3 linked regions of the Homo sapiens genome follow. The protein of the gene in region 1 interacts with the protein of each later gene in a biochemical or structural test. Each region holds a gene or a part of one and is shown in the gene's direction. Other genes may lie near its edges.

The links.
Region 2: the proteins of ATP7B (region 1) and ATOX1 form a complex in vitro, tested with the Homo sapiens proteins (3 studies listed by BioGRID and IntAct).
Region 3: the proteins of ATP7B (region 1) and ZBTB16 form a complex in vitro, tested with the Homo sapiens proteins (one study listed by BioGRID).

Annotation. Positions count from the first base shown.
Region 1 is NC_000013.11:52,008,359-52,015,518, reverse strand, and holds the start of ATP7B (copper-transporting ATPase 2), read left to right. Parts: upstream 1-4,068; 5' UTR 4,069-4,181; coding exon 4,182-4,232; intron 4,233-7,160. Other genes in the region: ALG11 (GDP-Man:Man(3)GlcNAc(2)-PP-Dol alpha-1,2-mannosyltransferase), read right to left, coding at 3,057-3,100. UniProt on the Homo sapiens protein: Copper ion transmembrane transporter involved in the export of copper out of the cells. It is involved in copper homeostasis in the liver, where it ensures the efflux of copper from hepatocytes into the bile in response to copper overload.
Region 2 is NC_000005.10:151,755,540-151,763,630, reverse strand, and holds the start of ATOX1 (copper transport protein ATOX1), read left to right. Parts: upstream 1-4,999; 5' UTR 5,000-5,079; coding exon 5,080-5,085; intron 5,086-5,270; exon of another isoform or gene 5,271-5,342; intron 5,343-6,559; exon of another isoform or gene 6,560-6,693; intron 6,694-8,091. UniProt on the Homo sapiens protein: Binds and deliver cytosolic copper to the copper ATPase proteins. May be important in cellular antioxidant defense.
Region 3 is NC_000011.10:114,055,276-114,062,745, forward strand, and holds the start of ZBTB16 (zinc finger and BTB domain-containing protein 16), read left to right. Parts: upstream 1-4,435; 5' UTR 4,436-4,607; exon of another isoform or gene 4,608-4,867; intron 4,868-4,966; exon of another isoform or gene 4,967-5,019; intron 5,020-5,231; exon of another isoform or gene 5,232-5,309; intron 5,310-7,470. UniProt on the Homo sapiens protein: Acts as a transcriptional repressor. Transcriptional repression may be mediated through recruitment of histone deacetylases to target promoters. May play a role in myeloid maturation and in the development and/or maintenance of other differentiated tissues.

The DNA of each region.
Region 1 (7,160 bases):
AAAATTCAACTTGAGGTTTGGGTGGGGTCACGGCCAAACCATATCACATAGTTTTCACTGCCCACATGAAAACATACAAATTCATCAGAAAAGTAAATTTTGCTTTTTTTAGATACAGGGTCTCACTCTGTCACCCAGGCTGAAGTGCAGTGGTGCAATCATAGCAATCACTGCAGCCCCAAACTCCTTGGCTCAAGCGATCCTCCTGCCTCAGACTCCTGAGAAGCTGGAACTACAGGTGCATGCCACCACACCCAGCTAATTAAAAAAATGTTTTTTGTAGAAATAGGGTTTTGCTATGTTGCCCAGGCTGGTCTCAAACTCTTGGCCTCAAGTAATCCTCCTGCCTTGGCCTTCCAAAGCATTGAGATTACAGGCATGAGCTGCTGCACCTGGCCAGAAGTAAATATTTTATTGATATTTAGTTTTGACATAAAGTTCTCATGTGGGATTTCCTATTGTGAACAAATCCTCATTTGTTCCTATTGTGAACAAATCTCATGTGGGATTTCCTACTGTGTACTTGAAGAGGTATTTGACTCTATTTGAAATCCCACATGAGCACTTTATTTCAAAGCTGAAATAATTGGTCTAAAATAATTTGGTCTTTATATTCTTTATACACCTTTATACTCTTAAAAATTTTACTGAGGATACAATAGAGCTTTTGTTTACATCAGAGTTTCTCATCCTTGACACTACTGACATTTTGGACCAAATAATTATTTGTTGCGGAGGTTGTCCTATGTATTATATTTAGTAGCATCTTTGGTCTTGACCCACTTAGATGCCAGTAGCACCCTCCCAATCAAAATTATCAGTTGGGCATGGTGGCTCATGCCTGTAATCCCAACATTTTGGGAGGCTGAGGTGGGAGGATTGCTTGAGCCCAGGAGTTCAAGGCTGTAGTAAGCTATGATCATGCCACTGCACTCCAGCCTGGGCAACAGAGCAAGACTCTTATCTCTAAAAAAAAAATTAAAAAAAAAAAGCCCTCCAGATATTGCCAAATGCCAAATGTCTTGCGAAGGGCAAAAATCACCCCTGGTTGAGAACCAGTGGTTTACACTGCTTATATCTACCAATATTTAGCATATTAGAAATGAAAACTAAAGAACTTTAAACTTTTTATGAATTCATTTGAAAATAAAAATTCTTTCATAACACATTAACATATTTTTATTAAAAAACTATCTTTTCCAAACCAAAAAAAGAAATTTAGCAAGAAGGGTGCCAATGATTTACACTTTTTGCAAATCTTTTTAATGTCTGGCTTAACGTGAAACCAGATAGTGGCTCCTCCTTTCTGTTTCTGCATTCAATCTAGTGATATGTTGTTTTTGTTGAAGTATATGAAGAAAATTCAGGCTAACTTAGACATGTAGTAGGAAAAGGGAGTATATTTTAATATATATTGATCTTATGTTTAAAATATATTTAACTTTTCAGCTAGTTACAGATATTCTTCTCTGATGCTAGACCACATTTGACAAGTTATGCAGTTTCTTAATGTCAGTTGCAATACAGACTCTGAAACCCTATCAATGACCTTTTCACACTGTTAATTAAAATCCACTATCACTTAGTTTTATCCGCTATCACTTTTGCACTTATCAACATAGTAAAATAGGCAAATATTACATTAATGTTATTATAAAAACAGATTTGTTGAGGATCCATTGAAGGGCCTTGGGACCTGCATGGTCCATGGAGCACAATTTGAGAACCACTGCCTTAAAGGATGAACAGAGTCTGACAAAAGTGGTAAGATTTATCATTTATTTAACATTTGGAATATATGAATTCATAAAAGCAACACTACAGAGGACAGTTTGCTTTCTCAGGACACTCTTTCAAAAGCTTATTTAAAATGCAGCTGACCCATATAATGTAAAGGTTTTTCTGGCAATTCCTTCAAATAATTTAGGTGGGAAAATTCATGTGACAAGCTTTTCAAACTGAACTATTAAACATTTAACTTAAAAGCTGCATAATAACTAAAGTTAAACCTGTCCTTTAAGTCTGGTTAGTGAGTTTATTTAAACATTATAATGTAAAGCACTGAGGAATATTACGTATGACAGGGAAGAACCAAAAGGCTCTGATAACAGACTTTCTCATTCAAAATGTTTAAAGTAATGATTACAGAATTTGAAGTAGAGTGGACAAAAACGAAGAAGAAATGCCTGAACTTTTGAAAGAATTAGGTATATACTGCTATTCAGGAAGCTATGGTGTTAATTATAAATTTTCAGCCTGAACAAAAATATGTAGGTGGTAAAAAAACTAGGTAGGTAGAATATACTAGGCCTTCTGTTTTATTAGTGGAGGGCAAGGCATTTAAAATACAGTAGTACTACAACAACAAAGGTGGAAAAAAGCCTGGGAGTTTTTTCACCAAAATGTTAACAGTGGCTATCTCCGGATGGTAGCATTCCTGGGGTTTTTTCCTTTTACTTATCTATTTTCTAATTTTTCTAGAAGAAACAGCATATACACGTAATACAAATAAAATAATATTTTATGTAACTTCTTACATCATAAAAATTAAAGTAACAGATTATCAAAAAGCAGAGGATTCAACATAAGCTTTATATTTAAGTGACGTGTTAACAATGGCAGTTTTGGTGAGTTTAAGAGTAGAAACTAAGATGAGAAGGAAGATCCGGTTTCTTCTTTACCGAAAAGAGACATGATAGATTGGAAAATGTCTCGTGGCTCAATCGTAAAGAAAAATAAGGAATGAATATGAATAATTTATGACAGACTAACTGGAGTGTGAAAGGGAAAAAAAAAGCTGAAGCAGGGAAGGGAACTCGACCCCTCGGCCAACAGTGAAGCAGAAGAAAACGCGGTAAATTGAGTCTTTAAGACCTAGTCTATTCCAGTCTATATAGAAGACCCCCAAGAAAAAGAAAGACTGCTCATTGGCCTGAGAAATTACCTTAGATTCATGACAAGGAAGGCCATTTGCCCGCAAAATTTAGCTACACTGGACGGGCAAGTACCCCTACAGAAGAGAAAACGTCTGTGAGCCCACACGACCGGCTGCTCACCTCAACAACTTGCACAGGCACCAGCTCCTTTCGCCGGCCGCCATCTTCCGCCGACCCCCGAACTCAGGAAACGCTTCACTTTCCTTTTCCCTATTGGCTCCTGAGAAAGCAAGCCGTGCTCGCCCCGCCCCCACGGGCCAATTGTGCGTTACTATTGGTTACTGGTAGCCGCTTCCCACGGCCTTCCAGCCAATAGAATATGCCGAGGCGTAGACTAGTGTTCGGCGTGGCGCACACGGCTCCCGCCCCCGTGGGCGGGACAGCAGTGGGGGGTTGGGCTGAGGAGGGCGTGGCCTGTGATTGACAGCCGTCGCTCCCTCCCTCGGCCACCTCCCCCACTAGAAGCCCCCGCCTGGGCGCCTGCGCCCCCGTTCCCGGCCCAAAGCCCGCCGCCCGTTGGAGGCCATTGGCTGGCCTTTGCGCACAGCGGATCGATTTTCCAGGTGCGGAGTTCACTCTTGCCGCGGTTGCTTCCTTTGGGACCCACGGCGTCCGGCAGCCAGGCGCAGAGTCCGAGGAGGGGGCAGCGCAGAGCGGACCCGACGCGGCGCCGCCGGGCACCTTCCCCGCAGGCGGTGGGTGAGCCCTGGGAGCTGAGTCTGCGGCCCGGCTCTGCGCAGCTCACCTGCCCTCCCGCTCCCGCACACGCGTGAGATCCCAGTACAGTGTCGGAGCGCACCAGCGCGAGGTGGCCGAGACCGCGGAGGAGGACAGGCCTCCGCCCTGCGGCGCCGGCACGGCAGAGGACATTGTGGCACTGGCACGGCAGAGAACACTGTGGCACCGGCGGGGCCGGCAGTTCCAGGGTGGGCACTCCCAGCCACCTGGGGAGTGGGCGAGGGTCCGAGGCCCACTCTCCCCTCACGCTCTCATCCCCGTGCCCCCAGGTCGGGAGGACGGCGGCGCGCAACTTTGAATCATCCGTGTGAAGAGGGCTGCGGCTTCCCCGGTCCCAAATGAAGGGGCGGTTCCCGGACCCCTGTTTGCTTTAGAGCCGAGCCGCGCCGATGCCCTCACACTCTGCGCCTCCTCTCCCGGGACTTTAACACCCCGCTCTCCTCCACCGACCAGGTGACCTTTTGCTCTGAGCCAGATCAGAGAAGAATTCGGTGTCCGTGCGGGACGATGCCTGAGCAGGAGAGACAGATCACAGCCAGAGAAGGGGCCAGTCGGAAAGTGAGTTTTGTTCCCCCGCGTCCGCGCAGCGTGCTCACTCCCACCAGGAGGATTTTCCTCCCCGCGTTCGGCGCTTACTCGCCCCCAGGGGGTGCGCAGGGAAGGCCGAGCCAGACCCCAGCTCCAGGGATGTCTTGGCGTGGGAGAAAAGGACCCTTTAGAAAAAGTGTGCCGTCAACTGATGTTTGGGAGCAATGGAAAACCCCGCACCTCAAAATTCATCTTTATGCTTTTAAGGGGTCTGATGCTGGAGAGATAAAGTGAGCGTCGAGTTGCTGTGCTAGAGCCCTAATGGCTCAAAACGATGAAGTTAGTTACCTGGAGAAGTTACTCAGAGCCTGGTGCTTGGACCAGATATGGTATATCGAGGTCCTGGAACTTTTATAACTGTTTTAAATTCATTTTAATTGTACAAGTAATACATTAAGACAGTCTTTTAAAAATGGAAACAGCACAGAAATATTTTGCACAAAAAGCAGATCTATTTTTCAGTCTTTTTCTATTCACGTACATATGTCTTCATTCGGCAAATATTTATTGAGAACTTTCTATGTTTCAGGCACACAGTGTTGAGTTGATACAGTGGTTAACAAGACATGTATCTATATGTAATATGCACACATTCAGAGAAATCTTTAGGTTTCATTTGTATGAGGTGTTAAAATTTTTGTTTTACCTAAATGAGATCACTGTATGTGCATTCTCTTTTTTCAGTTTAACGATATATCTTAGAGATTGTTTCACTAACTGTCTAATTCAGTGCAACCTCTGCACAGTTTGGACGCATCATAGTTTATTCATGGTTTCCTAGTGGTGGACGTTCTGTTTGCTACTTTTTTTCTCTCTCTCTTGCAAGTGAACATCTTTGTACATGATTTTTAATGCTGACACTATTTCTTTAGGATAGATACTTAGGCCTGGATTGCTGGACAGAACAGTAGGCTGTTTCTTTTCCACAGATTTCTGAAACTAATTCACTGACGTTGCTGGGTGCCCTTTAGTAGTGAATTCATCTAGGCTCCGGTGATACAGAAATGAAAACTAACGGATTAGTGGACAGACAGAGAGAGGCTGGTTAGTAGGTGGTTTGTAGGGTATGATGACTATGCATTTGATAGGAGTATGAAGAAATGTTGGGAGGGGTGGCTTGTACAGAGGAGATTTCAACTTCCTACAGTGTCCCCACCTAGAGAAAGAAATCATTATCCTTCCAAATCAAGCTCAAGACCTGCCACCTCCTTGAAACGTTCTGTAACTGCTCCTGCCCATGTTGACCTGTCTTCTGGAATCCTCTGATAATAGCGTTGACCAGCGTTATTGAGCTTACTGTGTGCTGGGCATTGTGTTAGGCACTCATATCCCTCTATGTGCACTCTCGCGTTTAATCCTCACAAAAACCCTTTGATGTAGGTATTATATCTTGTTATCAACATTTATTCAACAAATTTTTTTGTGTGTACTATGTGCTCAAACACATAGTACTCAAAGTTTTAGACACTGGGGATTTAGGTAGGACCGAGACCTTGCCCTCATGAATTTACATCCTAGTTGGAGATAGGAAAAAAAAAGGGATAAACAAATGTATAGCGTAGGAGTTAAGGGAAAACTTTTGTGCCCCGTGAAGCGTCACTGAAAAATCAACTGACAAATGGCAGATTAATAGGAGAGAAGGCATACACATTTACTAACGTGCCGTGAGAGTCTTACAACATAAGATCTCAAAGGAAGGCAAGGTGGTTGCCACAATTATACTATCCTGAGGTTACAGAAAGTGTGGGGGCTCTAAGCTTGGCCAAAAACAGGTTATGGTTGTAAATCAGGTTATAGGAGGGAGAGAAGAGGAGACCTGGCTAGCAAAGGTGGTCTTATGTAGATGAAACCTCACAGGTAGCAGCCCTCAGGGAGAAGAAATGTTTCAGACCTTGAAGGTGCCAAATTCAGCTAATCTCACCCAGATCCAGACAAGGAAGGGCCCTCTGAGAAAAACTGGCTGCGTCAATGGAGGTTCTCAACAGATGCTCATCTCCCTCACAGTAGGACTACTTTTGTCTGTAGGCCCTCTGAACGGCCATCTCAAAATATTTCCAATAAGTCTGTTTTGAGGTGAAATGTTTTAGTTTCCTTCAATAGCTTTATTTCAGGTACTAGTAAGTACTATGAAGAAAATAAAGCAGTTTGGGTCCAGGAGTTCAAGACCAGCCTGGCAGCATATCAAGACATCGTTTATACAAAAAAAAAAGAAAAATTAGCTGGGCATAATGGTGTGTGCCTGTCGAACCAGCTACTCGGGAGGCTGAGGCAGGAGGATGGCTTGAGCCCAGGAGTTTGAGGCTACAGTGAGTTGTGATCCCACCACTGCACTTCAGCCTGAGTGATAAAGCAAGATCCTGTCTCAAAAAAAAAGAAAAGAAAAGAAAGCAGAATAAGGGAATAAGATAGGGATTGACATGGGTGGAGAGGAAGATGCTGTTTTAAGTAGGTGGTCAGGGAATGATTTCTCTTGGAAGGTAGGATTTGAGTAGAGACCTGAATGATTCAGATTTCAGAGAAGTAGCCTAGGTTGAGAAACCATAAAGTGTGAGAGTCCTACGGCAGTCATGTGATAAGAAGAAATATATACTTGGTCTTGTCCCAAGTTCCTGACATAGAGCTTCTTAAACCGTTGTAATTTCCTGAGAGATGGTGATAAGAGCATCTTTTGTTATTCATAACAAGTCTCTTTCACCCCTACCTGAGTTTCTGTTAATGAGAGGGCTCTTGATAGGCCCCTAGATAGCTTCAGGATGGAGACTGATTGCCAGAAGAACCAACCATGTGATTAGGGGATTCGAATGTTCAGCCCCGTGCTCCAACCTCTGGAGATTGTGCCAATCACCAGTGGACAATGATCTAATCAGTGATGCCGGCAGAATAGAGCTTTCTTTAAAT
Region 2 (8,091 bases), on another chromosome or scaffold:
ACTTGAACTCAGGAGATGGTAGTTGCAGTGAGCCAAGATCATGCCAATACACTCCAGCCTGAGCAACAGAGCAAGACTCCATCTCAAAAAAAAAAAAAAAAAAAAAAAGAAACTTTTCATACTGCTCACCACAGCACGATGAGCTACGTCTAATTATTATCTTTATTTTACAAGAGAAGAGACAGAGTCAGAGAGATTAAATGCCTGAAACAGCAAGGAACTGAACGCAGGTTTGTCTGGGTTGTCTCATTAAACACATCTTTAGAAACCTGAAGCCCCAGGGGTACAGAGAACAAAGGAGGAAGAGGAGAGCATGGCAGATGTTCCCTGACCATTGGCTGCTATGTTGGGAGTCCACTAAAGAGTGCTGGGGACTATGATGGCTTCTAAGATGATCACTGTCCCCTCACATGGCAGAAGGGCAAAAAAGGCTTACGGTACTCCCTTCAACATCTTTTATAAATTCTCTAATCCCTTCCATGAGGGTTCTTCCCTCATTACTTAATCACTTCCCAAAGGCCCCACTTCTTAATACTATCACATTGGCAATTAGGTTTCAACATACGAATTTTGGTGGGACACTTTCAGATCAGTGCCATTCTATATGGTGACTCTTCCTCAAACCAGGTGCTTGAGCAAAACCAATTTGCACAGAGCCACTCCTCCAGCTTCAACCCACTCAGCCAGTTATGGGCATATCACAGGAGAGATAAATCTTCGTCATTTTAAGCCATTGAGGCTTTGGGATTGTTTGTTACTACAATATTACTTGGCCTATCCTGTCAGTCATAGACATGTTTCCAGATCTTTCAGTTTTTCAGGAAATATTAAAACTCTAGGTTATGTGACTCAATGTTCTTTTTTTAAAACATTTACTGATAGTACGAAAACTTTTGGTCTTGCCTAAAAAATACAATGGAAATATTCTGAGGACTTTAACTGAATAGGTTTCACCCTTTTTATTATCATTATTATTATTGAGACAGAGTTTCGCTCTGTTGCCCAGGCTTGAGTGCAGTGGCGCGATCTCGGCTCACTGCAACCTCCACCTCCGGGGTTCAAGCGATTCTCCTGCCTCAGCCTCCCAAGTAGCTGGGACTACAGGCACCCACCACAATGCCCAGCTAATTTTTGTACTTTTAGTAGAGACGGGGTTTCGCCATGTTGGCCAGGTTGGTCTTGAACTCCTGACCTCAAGTAATCTGCCTGCCTCTGCCTCCCAAAGTGCTGGGATTACAGGCGTGAGCCACTGCACCCGCCCATCACCCTTTTTAAAAACTTATTTAGGCCAGGTGCGGTGGTTCACGCCTGTAATCCCAGCACTTTGAGAGGCCGAGGCAGGAGGATTGCTTATGAGAGCAACCTGATCAACATGCCAAGACCCCATCTCTACAAAAACATACAAAAAAATAGCTGGGTGTGGGGACATGCACCTGTGGTCCCAGCTACTCAGGAGGCTGAGGTCAGGGGATCCCTTGAGCCCAGGAGGTCACAGCTGCAGTGTGCCATGTTCACGCTACTGCACTCCAGCCTAGGTGACACAGCAAGACCCTGTCTCAAAAAATAAAAATTAAAAACTATTTAGAATTTTTATTTTTAAAAATGCTTTTCCTAGTCTTGTAATAAGAAAGCAACTAATTTTACATGTCAGTCTAGAAATAAATAAATTTATTTATTTATTTTTATTTTGAGACAGGGTCTTGCTCTGTCACACAGGCTGGAGTGTGGTGGCACGATCACGGCTCAGTGCAGCCTTGACCTCCTGGGCTCAAGTGATCTTCCCACCTCCGCCTCCCAAGTAGCTGGGACTACAGGTGCACAACACCATGTCCAACTAATTTTTAAATTTTTTGTAGAGACAAAATCTCGCTATATTGCCAGGCTGGACTTGAAGCAATTCTCCTGCCTGGGACTCCTAAAGTGTTGGGATTACAAGCATGAGCCACCATGCCCTATTTTTAATTGTGGTAAAACATACAGAACATAAAATTCCTCTTTCTAACCATTTTTAAGTGTATAATTCAGTGGCATTAAATATATTCACAATGTTGTACAAGCATACTCAGAGTTCTTAACTGTTGTCAACTAATCAAAAAATATTTTGAATACTTTAGGGACTGAATAAAATGTGTCTGTAGACCCAGTTCTGCCAGCATGTGGCTCTGCAGGACACCATGCTCCCTCTCCCAAGCCTGCAGTCCACGCTCCCTCAGCTTCCACTTCATAGCCCTTCTCTTCTCATGCATGCCTTGGCTGCTCTGAGGGCCCTTTCAGCTCAGAATCTTTGGTCCCAGATAAAGGGTCCGTTGGTGGATAAAGCAGTGAGGCAAGTGGTGTATACCTGTGTTATGATACAAAAAACAGACACTTGGTTTCCTGCGGTGGGGATATCGGGGAGCAGGCAGCAGCTACAAAACCTTTCTTTGCAAAGAATTAAACTCCTCAGCATCTGTCAAAGAAAGGGTCATCCCAGGAGGCTGGGTCTAGAAGTAGATTACACCAGGAAGAACCCACCATCTATACATGCCTACAGTGTGCACATTCCTATCCTTGCAACAACACTTTCAGCCAGAAAGCAGGGATTCTATATGCCCATTTCCCAGGCTCACTGGCTTAGTGATGGCTCATTGCCTGTAATCCCAGCACTTTGGGAGGCCAAAGTGGGCAGATCACGAGGTCAGGAATTCGAGACCAGCCTGGCCAACATGGTGAAACTCTGTCTCTACTAAAAATACTAAAAATACAAAAATTAGCCGGGCATGGTGGTGGGCGCCTATAATCCCAGCTACTTGGGAGGCTGAGGCAGGAGAGTTGCTTGAACCCAGGAGGCGGACGTTGCAGTGAGCCAAGATCACGTCACTGCACTCCAGCCTGGGCGACAGAGCAAGACTCCATCTCGGGGAAAAAAAAAAAAAAAGCTAAGAAAGAAAAGGGTTGATATGTACTATTAAGGAATAATCTTTTTTTTTTTTTTTTTTTAAATACAGGGTCATATTCTGTCACCCAGGCTGGAGTGCAGTGGTGTACTTATGGCTCAATGCAGCCTTGACCTCCTGAGCTCAAGTGATGCTCCCACCTCAGTCTCCTGAGTAGCTGGGACCACAGGCATATGCCACCACACCCGGCTAATTTTTGTATTTTTTGTAGAGCCAGGGTTTCACCATGTTTCTTAGTCTGGTCTCAAACTCCTGGGCTCAAGTGATCCTCCCACTTAGGCCTCTCAAAGCAATGCGATTACAGGTATGAGCCACTGCATCTGGCCCAGGAATAATCTCTAAGATATTTTATAAAGTGAGAAAAGCAGGATGCAAAACTGTGTATACTATGCCTTTTGTTTAAGAAGGAGAGGTCAGGGTAGGAGGAAGACCTACTTTTCACTGTACGCTACTTTGTGTTATTTGAAAATTAAACAGTAGGTACATTGGGATTCCACCTGCAAATCCTACACTTATCCAAGATAACTTCTAGTAACATTGGCTGTGGTTCATTTCATGCTTATTTTAATGTAAATACACGGAATGTATGTATATATTTATGCAGGAACTACAGTCTGGCATATTTTCTTCTCCTCTTTAATAGGTCTTTATTTGTGATCTTTAACAGATCTTTATAAAGCTGTCTTCTCTTTAAATTGCTGTCTCTAGGCTTAGCCATCCCCCCAACCCATACCCCTAATTCTCTAAAACATGCCGTGGGTGGTTCGCCCTGTGTACTGTTGCTTTGGGAAGGATTTCCTTCCCTCATGTCCACTCTCCGCCTTCCCTCATGGCAATCTAGCTATCCCTAGCCCCAGGGCACAGTTGTACCCAGGACTACCAAGATGCTAAGCCTTGCCCGTACAGGACCTAATGTGCCAGTACCCTCTTTCCCTCTCCTCCTCGCCCCCTTCCCTTCCATCTTTAGGGAATTCCTGGCAGGTTGGGTAGGGGATGAATGGTTAAGGGGTATTTTGTGAGCAGCGGAAGACCCAGTGCCAGGGAGGCCAACAGAGGGCCTAGCAATTAGAGAATACTTATATATATTTTTGGTGCCTACCATGTGCCAAGCAATGTATTAAGAAGTTTGCACACATTACATGTATTCCAACAATACTGCAAAGTAGGTTTCTTGGAGGGAACCATGTGTCGTTGTTTGCCTGAAACAGTCATGGTGTTTGCCTGTTGTCCTGGCAAAATTATTAATAGCATCTCCTTTCTCTAGCAAAAGGTTCAGATAAAAAATTGTATAGTGACCTTAACTGTCCCCATCTTATACGTGAGGATATTGAGGCTTAGAGAGGTAAGTTCATCTGCCCAGGGTCACATGGCTAATAAATGATAGGGCTGAGATTAAAACTCTAGTCAGTATGGCTCTGCTAGGGACTGAACTCTGACATGGACATGAATTGTGTCCCCGCAAATTCCTATGTTGATACCCTAACCCCCAATGCGACTGTATTTAGAGACAAAGCCTGTAACAGGGCGATAAAGGCTAACCGAGGTCCAGATTATTGCCTTCTCCCCAGGCCGCCTCTCTTCCACAACCGCCCCCACCCCACTGCAGTCAGGGCCCTTCCTCCTCTGTCACAACAGCTCTGCTAACCCTGCACTATCACTGCCTGCGTCCTTCGCAGCCTCCTGCTGCTGCTCTTCCACCGCTGCGTCCTCGTTGGCTGGCGCTTAATAAAAATTGACTCGGTGAATAAATGAGTGAAACTGTCCTTTTAGGGATGGATGGATGATGTCCTGTTCAAGGCGGTGCCCTTCTCTGGCATTCCCTAACACAAGCTTGACCCGAAGTAGGCGTTCTGAAAAAGGCCGACAGTCGATGGAGGCCAACGCAGCGCCCCTCTCACCTCCTCTCTCCGTCCAGGCCGGGTGACCACGGGCCCGGCCCGCAGAAAGGAGGCGGCGCGGCCGGCAGGGATCAGGACTGGAGGGGGCGGAGCCTCCCTCGCGGCCGGGCCCGGAGTGGGAGGGGCCTCCGGGACCAGGCCTCTAGTGCGCACTCTCGGAAGCGCAGCCGAACCCGCCCTCCGAATCCAGAGAGGCGCTGCTGACACCGCCGCCACACCGCCGCCACACCGCCGCTGCCTCAGTCATGCCGGTGAGTGGTTGCGCCGTCCCCGCCACGCAGACTTGCAGTCCCGGGTTGCTTCTCGGCTGCACAGCCGCTTGACCGGATGCTGATCTTGAAGGGCTCAGGCGGCGGCCGGAGCCGCTGTTGTCCCCTAGCTTACCCCACCCAGCCCCCAGCTTTTGCGACCCTTCAGAAAATGGGATCCGAAGGGAGTTTAATCTGGGAGCCAGGCTTCAAAACGTCGGAGCTGGAAGGCCTCCAGGGGCGACAAGCCCACACCTTCCCTGCGTACACAGAGAAACAGAACCAGAGAGGGGGCAGGGGATGGGGGAGTTGGTGGCCAGCGGGAACTGAGACGCCTAGTCCCTGAGCCTTCCTCCTGGCTGCCCTGCCCGCGGAGCTGGCCTGAAGGAGGGCGGTGGGGAGGCTCTGGACAAGGGAGTGGACCCGGTTATTTCCTCACGGACCGGGCAGGTTTTCAGAGGTTCATGCTTTTCTTAATTTCCCTGCCCACTCTGGCCTACTTTTCAGATCAACTCTGGGCGACACTGAATGGAGACACTTTCTCAGCCTGAACCCATGAGCCCCAGAGAGGTTCAGGAACCCCCCCGCACAGTCACCAGTTGCTCAGTGGCTGTGTCTGGGAAGTCAGTCTTAGCCTGCCTTTGCAGATCACTCAGTCTTATCACATATATTGTTGCTCGTGGCCTCGTTTTTTATATAAAGAATTGAGGCCTTTGGCAGATAAAAATATAAAAAGCCCAGTAACTTATTCCAGGTCGTGTTGAAGTTGGCAGAGCCAGGATTCAGCTCCTTATCCTTAGGCTCCCCATCTCTCCAGGCCTGACCACATGGGAGGTGCCAGGCAAAAGCAGTCACACCGGCTTGGGAAGATGCTCTGATCTCAGTTGCATCTTGGTTAGGGTCATGTGGTGTTTAGCATTTTCTTCAGGGTGCCTAATTCATGGCTCTGGGCCAGGTGGATACCCAGAGGTATCCCACAGTTGCCATGTGTCTTTGCATCCTGTCTTTAGGGAGCTGGCAGGTGAGCCTGAGGCCTCCTGGGCAGAGCCACTGACATCTCAGGTGTCATTTCCTGTGGGTCTTGCCAGGTGCCTTGAGACAAATCCTCCAACAACAAAGTATGGATAAGGAATCTGATAGAATCAGCCCTACCAGTTGGGCAAGTCAGCCTGTGGCAATGGTAGAAGACAGTATTAATTGCCCTGGGGCTTGGGGAGTGAAGGCCACCAGGATTTTTTGTGGGGGGTGGCAATGAGGAAAAGGCTAGCTTGATCATCACTGTATTCTGTATCTTCTGGGGATTTTGACAAAAAACCCTCTGGAGCAGATGATGGGAATGAGGAGGGCACTTGGCACCATGTACCACAAGATAACAGCTGAAGGAAAGAGGGTGTTAGTCAAGGGATTTCCTCAAAACTGGAAAGGGAAGAAAAAAATATATCTATATACACATACTGGAAGGGGAAGAGTGTGTTACCTGAGAGTTTTCTCAGACAAATGCCCGAGAGCACAGGGTTTGGAATCCCAGAAACCTCTGAAAATCTGTGCCCCAGCTTGCCAACTGGGTGACCTCAGGCAAGTTGCTTTATCTCACTGCCTTGATTTCCTCATCTGTAAGATAGGGACAAAAACTTTGACCTCACAGGACTGTTGTTAGTATTAACTGGAAAAATGCCAGTAAAATATGTCACACAGCCACTGATATATCTAGTCCCCAAGAAATGGTAGCTCCTGTGTAGACGTAGGACAGGTGGGCTAGAGCTATAGGCAGGTGAGGCCGGGCATGGTGGCTCACGCCTGTAATCCCAGCACTTTGGGAGGCCCAGGCGGGCAGATCACTTTAATGCAGGAGCTTGAGACCAACTTTGGCAACATGATGAAACCCTGGCTCTACAAAAAATACAAAAAATTAGCCAGACGTGGTGGCCCGTGCCTATAGTCCCAGCTACTTGGGAGGCTGAAGTGGGAGGATTGCTGGAGCCTGGGAGGTTGAGGCTGCAGTGAGCCGTGATCGTGCCACTGCATTCCAGCTTGGGTGACAGAGTGAAAGTGAAACCCTGTCTCAAAAGAAAAAAAAAAAAGGAAGGAAGGAGAGAGAAAGAAAAGAAAGAAAGAAAGAAGAGAAGAGAAGAGAAAACTATAGGCAGGCAGCTTTCAATCCCATTTTAACAAGATCTCAGTGGTTAAGCATTGAGGTTTTAGAGGCTGACTATGTTCAATTCAGGCCCTACTCAGCCGAATCACCGTGAGTGTGTGAACTAACCCCTAAATCTCAGTTTCCTCATCTGTCAAGAAGGGATAATAATAGGCCAGGTGCGGCGGGTAATGCCTGTAATCCCAGCACTTTGGGAGGCTAAGGCAGGCAGATCACAAAGTCAGGACTTTGAGACCAGCCTGGCCAACATGGTGAAACCCCGTCTCTACTAAATATACAAAAAAATTAGCCGGGCATGGTGGCGGACGCCTGTAGTCCCAGCTACTCGGGAGTCTGAGGCAGGAGAATCGCTTGAACCCAGGAGGCGGAGGTTGCAGTGAGCTGAGATCGTGCCACTGCACTGCAGCCTGGGTGACACTGTGAGACTCAGTCTCAAAAAAAAAAAAAAAAAAAAAGAATCATCCCACTTACTGACTTTAAAAACCTACTTTAAACCTACTGGCTTTTAAAATCTACCCATTTTATAAGTCTTTATAAAAGACCCCAGAGGCCATGAGGAACCAGAACTACCCAGTTATGCATCTGGTGGTAGAGCCAATCTTGAGATTCTCCTATAAAGAAGTGATTACTCTGTCCATGAAATAGATTTTCCATCACCCTCAAATTTATTTTTGCCCCTCAGAGGTGGAGGAGGAGAGCACTGAACTGTAATGTTTATACCCAGAAGCTGGTTTCTGGCTTCTGACCTTTATACTGTGGGGGATGGGACCTACTCCCTGTAGTCAGCGACAGAAAGTTTCAGGTATCTGTTGACTTTAGGTCCTTGGGCAGCAAAAAACTGTGCTCCCTAAAAA
Region 3 (7,470 bases), on another chromosome or scaffold:
GGAAGGGCATACTTGGCACCTGGGAGAGAAACTCAAGTTTGTAAACACCACTAACCAGGTCTCTGTTGGTTGGGGCGGTGATGGTGGTGGTAGTGGTGGGGTGGGGGATGAGGGATGATGGCAATCACTAATCAAAGAAGCTGTCTTATTTGGTTTGCTGAGCCTCAACTAACCGGAATGCATACATCACCTGATTCTTTCCCCCTCTGCTTTTTGGAGGGGGCATCTAAGGACATAATGTAAAAGAATTAAAATTTAAAAACAAAAACAAAATGTCAACATATGCAGGAGTAAATTCCACTCTGCCTAATTTTTTTTTTTTTTTGAAATGAGATCTTGTTCTGTCACCCAGGCTGGAGGGCAGTGGTGCAATCTCAGCTCACTGCAGCCACCACCTCCCAGGTTCAAGCGATTCTCCCGCCTCAGCCCCCTAAGTAGCTGGTATTACAGGCACGTGCCACCACGCCTGGCTAATTTTTGTATTTTTAGTAGAGATAGGGTTTCACCATGTTGGCCAGGCTGGTCTCAAACTCCTGACCTCAAGTGATCCGCCTGCCTCGGCCTCCTAAAGTGCTGGGAGTACAGGCATGAGCCACTGCGCCCAGCCTACTCTGCCCAATTGTTGACATCACCTACAGCTCTATAGTAGATGTCTGGAATGATGATCTGAAGGACTGTAAGACTGTAAGATTTTTTGACTCCAGAAATGGACACAATAGGCTTGCGGTGTCTTCCCCTAACAGTCCCTGGCAGGGTAAAGGTCTGATGCCCTGGTACGTTCCCCAGTGGCAATCTGGAGTTCTCAACTGCAGAGAATACTTTTCCTCTACTCAGGGGCGTCACTACCTGCATCTCTCCCTGAACATGCTTCATTTTCCACTCATCACAAGTTTTTGGGGAAATGCAAAGTGGCATCTTCTCCCCAAAAGGTAGGGATCTTTGATTTTTTTAATCACGATAGAAAAGTTTACTTTGAAATAAAAAAATTAAATATATGTTCCAAATTAAGAGTTGGAACTTAAAGAGTTGCAACATTCCATTCATACTCAGATACTCAAAACACCACTGTATTCTTCTTCCTATCTCTTTAGTTGAAGTTTTTTTTTGTAATTCAAAGCCCCCTCCCCAATTTCTGCCTGAGATTCTGAGGGAGGAGGAAAAGTGTAAGATCCTGGGGGATCTAAGTCTCTTTACCTGGTGACCAAGCTGAGAACCATTTGGTCCTCAGCTTGGCTGGCTGCTGCACAGATCTTGGCCTCAGCAGAGTAAGAGAAGAAGGAAAATTAAAAGCCCTTGCTTCCTTCATCTATTTCACTAGAGGCTACATAATCTAGAAGTTAAGAGCATGAGCTTTGCAGTCAGAATGGTCTGATTTAAAGTTTCAGCTCTGATGTTTAATAGATCTACAGTCTGCAGTAAGGCACTTAATCTCTCTGAACCTCAGTTTTCATGTCCACAGAAATTGGGAAAATAATAGCACCTGCATTAATAGGATTGTTATGTGGATTAAATAAAACAACATAGGTAATGTGTTGAGTTTCGTAGTCAGTGCTCAGAATGAGTTATTATTTTCGCTGTCTCCTTCCTGTATGATCTCTTAGAACTGCTATACCCTCCTGTTCCACTAACTGAGCTCTGAAAGGCTGCCAGTGGTGGGAGGTACATGGGTAAAGAGGGAGATGAGGGAGTAAGATTTAGCAATGGAATTCCATGCAAAGGCCAGCTCATCTATTCCTCTGTCTCTAGCATGATCTCCCCCTAAGATTGAGATCTCCTGTATTTTTAGAACTGATACCCAGGTTTCCCTTAAAAGACGCTTCAAGAAAAAATGTAAAAGAAAAATCACTCTAAATACACGAACATGAGAGAGACAGAAAGAGAGCGGGCATGTGCGCGCGAGAGAGATTGAGTATTCTCTTGTAATTTTCCATCCTGCTTGTTTTTAGGTGCTGCCATATGAAATCTCTGAACTGAGGATTCTCATCAGCCTTCCCAGGACCCAAGGACATAGCTCTGGCTATAAATGGTGCCAGTTTTGGTGGGGGAGCTGCTGCTGCTTTATCTGGGCCCAATAAACCTTATCAAACTGCTGTGCAGCCAGCCTTCAGCGCTAAGTGGAAATGCTTGGAGCCCAATGCTGGCATTCAGCCCACAGCCTCGCCTGCCTTCTTCCTTTTTGTTACCTTCTCCACCTCTTAAATTCAGGCATTAATCTCTCTTTAACACTTACTAACAAGGGCTGGGCTTTTAATGGGCAGCGTTTATGAAGCAAGGGAGATTTTCACATAGAGTGAATATGGCACGGGGGTGGGGAGGCCAGGGCCATAGAGGATTGTGCTTTCTCTCCCATTGTTTCCAGAGATTCTCTCTTTCTCTGATTTGAGGATTAATAGGAGATTAGGATCAGGGGTTAATTGTGTGCTTCTCCTGCTACTGCACTGAGGAGAGGCTGGTAGGTGGATGTGGACAGCAAAGCGGAAACCTCCAGCAGGCACTATCTAGGCAGAAGCTCAACAAGTGTAGTGATTCTTTCTTCTGTTTCCCTGGTGAGGCACCAGGAGGGTCTTTTCTCCTCTCCTTACATCCCTCCACTCTTGCTCTCCTTGCAGCCCAGTTCTTTCCTAACTTTCTTTAAATCCCTTTCCTCTAACAGGGTGTATAGACCTTAGTTAGAAAAACAGGTAGTCTCTAAATGGGATTGCTCTTTATTGTTAATGAAATGAATACCCAGGGACTGGGCTTCCCCTCCGCTTGCCCTGGGTTTGATGTGGTTGTATCCCGTGCTATCAGAGGAGCCCTTCCTTCACTCAAGTGTGTTCCCCTGCCCAGCTCTCTCCGCAGACTCCTGCTGGGCTGAGCTTTCCCTGCTCTTAAGAGTCAGGAGTGGCTCTTGCTGGGATGGAATGACCCGTCTTTGGGGCTGCCTCATGAGCGGCTCTTGTGAACCCGGATCAGTTCCGATGTGTAAACTCTACCGCCTGGCCTTCAGCGAACAGATACAGATTTCTGCCACCTTCCATGACCCTACAGTTCATGGGACTGGGTCTGGGGCAGTGCCAGAGGCACGCATGGAGGTGTGATTCTAGGTGAGTCCTGCGGAAAACCTCTGGCCCACCCGTGAGTCACGGACAGAACATGCAGACTCAGGCCTTGGTGACATAAGCTCCGCATTGCTAAAACCGCGTGACCTCGAGGGCTGACTGGCCTGAGAACCCTGGATGGCGCTCTCGGCCACCCCCACCTCCCACCCCAACCTCCTGGGCTTCGGTCAGAATCCACAGCCCGTGCCCGAAGAGCGCTTCCCGCCTCTGGCACCCTACCTTCGCTCAGCTCCAGGGAAAAGGGGAGAGGGCAGCTTTCTGCAGTCAGAGGAAGAGTACATTTTCTTTGGCTGCTCTACCCTCTGAAGTAGGGCGGCCAGCTGAAGGAGGACACACTTTTGAGGGGCCCAGAGGTTGTCCAAGCTTCCCCCTGCCCCCTGAAGACTGTGCACTGAGCTGGGCGCAGTTCTCGGGAACTGTTTCCACCCAGATTGCTGGGGGGCGGGGGGGTAGGATGAGGGCAGAGCCGAGAGGCTGTCCAAGGTTTGGGAGAGAGAAAAGTTTCTCCCAGGACTCGACCTTGGCCTCCAGCAATCGCGACAGCTAAAAACGGGTGTCTCGCTTCGACAATAGATCCCCGCGGACCTTCTGGCACCTGGTTCACTAGCGCCCGCGAACTCTGCCTCGGGAGACTTATTGAAATCCGGATGCTCAAGCCGGGAGGCGCGCAGTAACCAGGAGGATGAGAGGGCCGGGTTTGGGCTAGGAAAGCGGCCTTTTAAAACAGATGTCAGGGGGACTGCAGCCCCGAGCCATGAGAAAAAAGTTAAAGGCGAGATGACACGCACTGAATTGGGGCAAACATTGGAAGAGGAGACAAAACTGCGTGCTTGAGCACCGGGGTGCGGGGAGGGGGGGACAAAACCCGTATCCAGTGCAAATTAAAATCTTGGGAGTAGGTGGGGGCTGCTGCGCGCCCTTCACCCTCAGTTCCCCTATTAAGGATTCTGAGTCCCCATGCACTCCTGTCCTCTGGCTCCTTCCTTCCTCTCCGCTCGGCCGGTGAGAGGCGGCCGCCGGCGCCCCAGCAGCAGCTAGATGTCAGGCGAAGCCCGGAGCGCGGAGCGCGGGGAAGGGAGGGGAAGGGAGGGGAGGGGAAAGGAGGGGTGGGGCGGGGAGCGCGCGCGGGCTCGGCCAGTGCGGGGTGGTGGGCGGGCTGAGCCCGGGGACGGCGCGGGAGGGGGGAGGGAAGGGGGGCAGCTGTGGGCAGGGAGCCGGGCTCGGCCGCCAGCACTAAAGATGGAGAGGCGCCGGGGCCTTGCAGGGGAGGGGGCTCGGCGTTGACGTGGGACGCGGCGGAGGCGCAGCAGCCGGTGGTGATTTGCTAACCTCGCAGCAGAGAGGAGTTGAGGGCGATGAGAGCGGGTACTGCGAACTGCCGGGCGATGCTGTCGCTGCCGCCGTGATACGGAGAGCAACAGTTCCCCAGCAACACCCCTCCCCGACACAGGCACACACCCCCCGACAGGCACGCACACCCACCCCACAGTGCCCGGCTCGGCTGCGGTGAGTGAGGGGCCGGGAAGAGGCGCACCGCCCAGCGAGCGCCGCGCGCCGGGGCTTCCCGGGGCTGGAGAGGTCTGGGGGGCGCGCGCTCGCTTCGGCCACTCGGCCGCTGGGCTTGTGCCTTTTTTATTTGGCGTGTTCCCTTCCTGCCGCTGCAGCCGTCGCCGCCACCGGTTGGGGGTCGGCTAGAAGGGGGAGCCCCGGCTGTCAGCCTGGGCGCAGCTGCCTCCCCAGCCCTTCCTCTTCAGGGCACGGTCGGGGTGAGAGGTGGGGGGCGTAGCGGTGTGCGGGGGCTGAGGGCGTGAGCAGAGGGGTCGGGGATCCGGAGGCTTTGTACCGCCAGGGGCTGGCGGAGCAACAGAGCCCGTGGGTGCTCTTATGTATGCGGACCGGTGCGCGGGCGCAAGATAAGGTTGTGGTTTATTTATTTGTGTGTTTATTCGCCGGCCGGCTGGGAAGCTAGAATCGGAGGAGCTGACGAGTAGATCTGGGGGCGGAGGGGAGCAGGACTGGGACTGCTTACGTTTTGTTTCTCTTTGAGAAAACGTGGTGGGCTTTTTCTTGATTGGACTTGATCCCCACCCCCCTTTTGCAGGGGAGGGAGGGAAGCTCCAGAGGGTCTGCAGCGCTGCGGGCCCTCCTCGGCTCTCGGCGGGACCGGCGGTGACACCGGAGCTCGCCGTGCGCTCCCGGCCGCTCTCGGTGGGTGCCGGTCTCTGCACCTGATGCGTTCGGGATGCCTTTCCCACCCTGGCGCGCCCGCCGCTAGCTCGCACAGCGCCTCGCACACTCCCGCACGCGCTTGAAATGCGCACGGTCCCGCCGGCCCGCGGAACCACCCGGACGCACGGAGCGCTCCGCACCGACTCGCTCGCCGCCTCCCCGAGACGCTCGCACCGTGCTTGGGCCGGGCGCGCTGGCCGCTGGCGCCGCTGGCCAGAGGCCTGGGACCCAGCCGGTCGCTCCCAGGGGGTCACGGCCCTGGGTCGGAGAGGGAGGGCGGGCAGACCCCTTCTCGCCTTTCCTCCCACAACTCGCTGCGGGGCTTTTGTGCTTCCCCTTCGCCGCGGGGCGGGTCCGCCTCCCCTGCCGCTCTCGCCGCGGAGTCCAGCCCGCCCGGACTGTCGCCGTTCCTCCCCGTCTCTTTCGCTTTCCCTCGTCCCTAGCTCAGCTCTCCTTCTTTCAGGAGTCTAGCTCCTCGGGAAAAGTTGCTTCCCCAAGTTTGCTGAAGTCGTCTCCAAGTCTCGGTGGGGGTCGCTGGGAACTGGGGGGGTGTGAGAGCGCGGTCGATCCCCGGAGCTCGGGCGGGTTATCGCCGGCTCTTCCCCGCGCCGCCTGGCTGGACGCTGCAGCCAGCGCCAGCCGGATCGCGGGCGCCGAGCGGCGGGTGGGGGAGACGGCTGCCCGTGGGCGCCCAGATTTCCCTCAGGACCCAAAAGGCTTGTTTCAGGGCGCCAAGCTTCCATTCTTTTGGCTGTTCCCTCCTAGTTCTCAGAAACCCCGATGTCTGCGGGAAAGCACGCGGTGGCTCGGCTCGGCTGAATGCTCATCCCAACCTTGACGGCCTCCGTCCCCACCCCGGGGCGGGCAGCAAAAATGTCTTGACCAGCCGTCCTGTGAATCCTTTCTGCGTGAGCTTGGTGGCTCCTGAACTGATAGAGCTCCTTCTGGGGGTGGAGGCAAGCAAGCAGTGTTCGAAGAGTGAGGGAGAGACCTTGCTGTTCCTTGCTCTCAGTGCATTCACTGCAATATTGGTCGCTGTAAGACAGACACGGGGAGGGTCCTGGGCCTGCGCGGTCTTTCTAACACTCCTGTAAGCGAGGTTTGGAGTCTAGGAGCCCTCTTATTGATCCCGAACAGGCTCTGGGAGAGGCCTTTGTTTCCCAGCCCTGTCTTCCCTTCGTACTGGTTGTAACTCACACCACAGGTGCTGGTGCCAATATCACTTCCAGCGCCTCTGAGCCATGTCCAGCATCCCTTGCTGCCCCTGGTCACAGGACTTGCAGACTCCTTGGAGCCTGTGGGACACACGTGGAGTTCACACACCCAGCCCAGCATGAGCACTCCTGGCTGTAGGGGACCATATTTAACTATGGTCTCTCTCCATACCTTAATGACCCATCCTTCTTCGTTTTTTAGATCCTCCTGTCCACCGGGCAGTTGTGGGCAGGAGGGTAGGTACGACACCTTACGTAAGTGTGTGTGTGTAAACACACACACACTTTTTTTTTTTTTTCTGAGACGGAGTTTTGCTCCTGTTGCCCAGGCTGGAGTGCAGTGGCACAATCTCGGCTCACGGCAACCTCCGCCTCCCGGTTTCAAGTGATTCTCCTGCCTCAGCCTCCCGAGTAGCTGGGATTACAGGCGGGTGCCACCGCGCCTGGCTAATTTTGTATTTTTTGTAGAGACGGGGCTTCTCCATGTTGGTCAGGCTGGTCTCGAACTCCCGACCTCAGGTGATCCGCCTGCCTGGGCCTCCCAAAGTGCTGGGATTAGAGGCGTGAGCCACCGCGCCCTGCCCCACACACTCTTTCTGTCTGTCTCTGGCTGGTGTACATACACACAGTTCAGATTTTATATTATACATACAATAACTTTGAGGCTTCCGTGGGTAGAAATGACCCAAGTTAGTGTGTGGGTTGTGTGTGTTCCTGTTAGTACCTAGGGATGGGGACAGGCCTTGGGTCTGCCAGTGCTTTGCAGCCCTGAGAACAGTAGAAGGCCAGAGGCCAAGGCTGATGGTGAGAGGATAGCCTTTGCGGAGGAGAGCCCAGTGTCCATAGATTTCTGTGGCCATGGCTACAGGCTCCTGGCCTCCAATGAGTTTGACTCTGCTTCTGGGGCTCCTGTAGTGAGGCAGAGT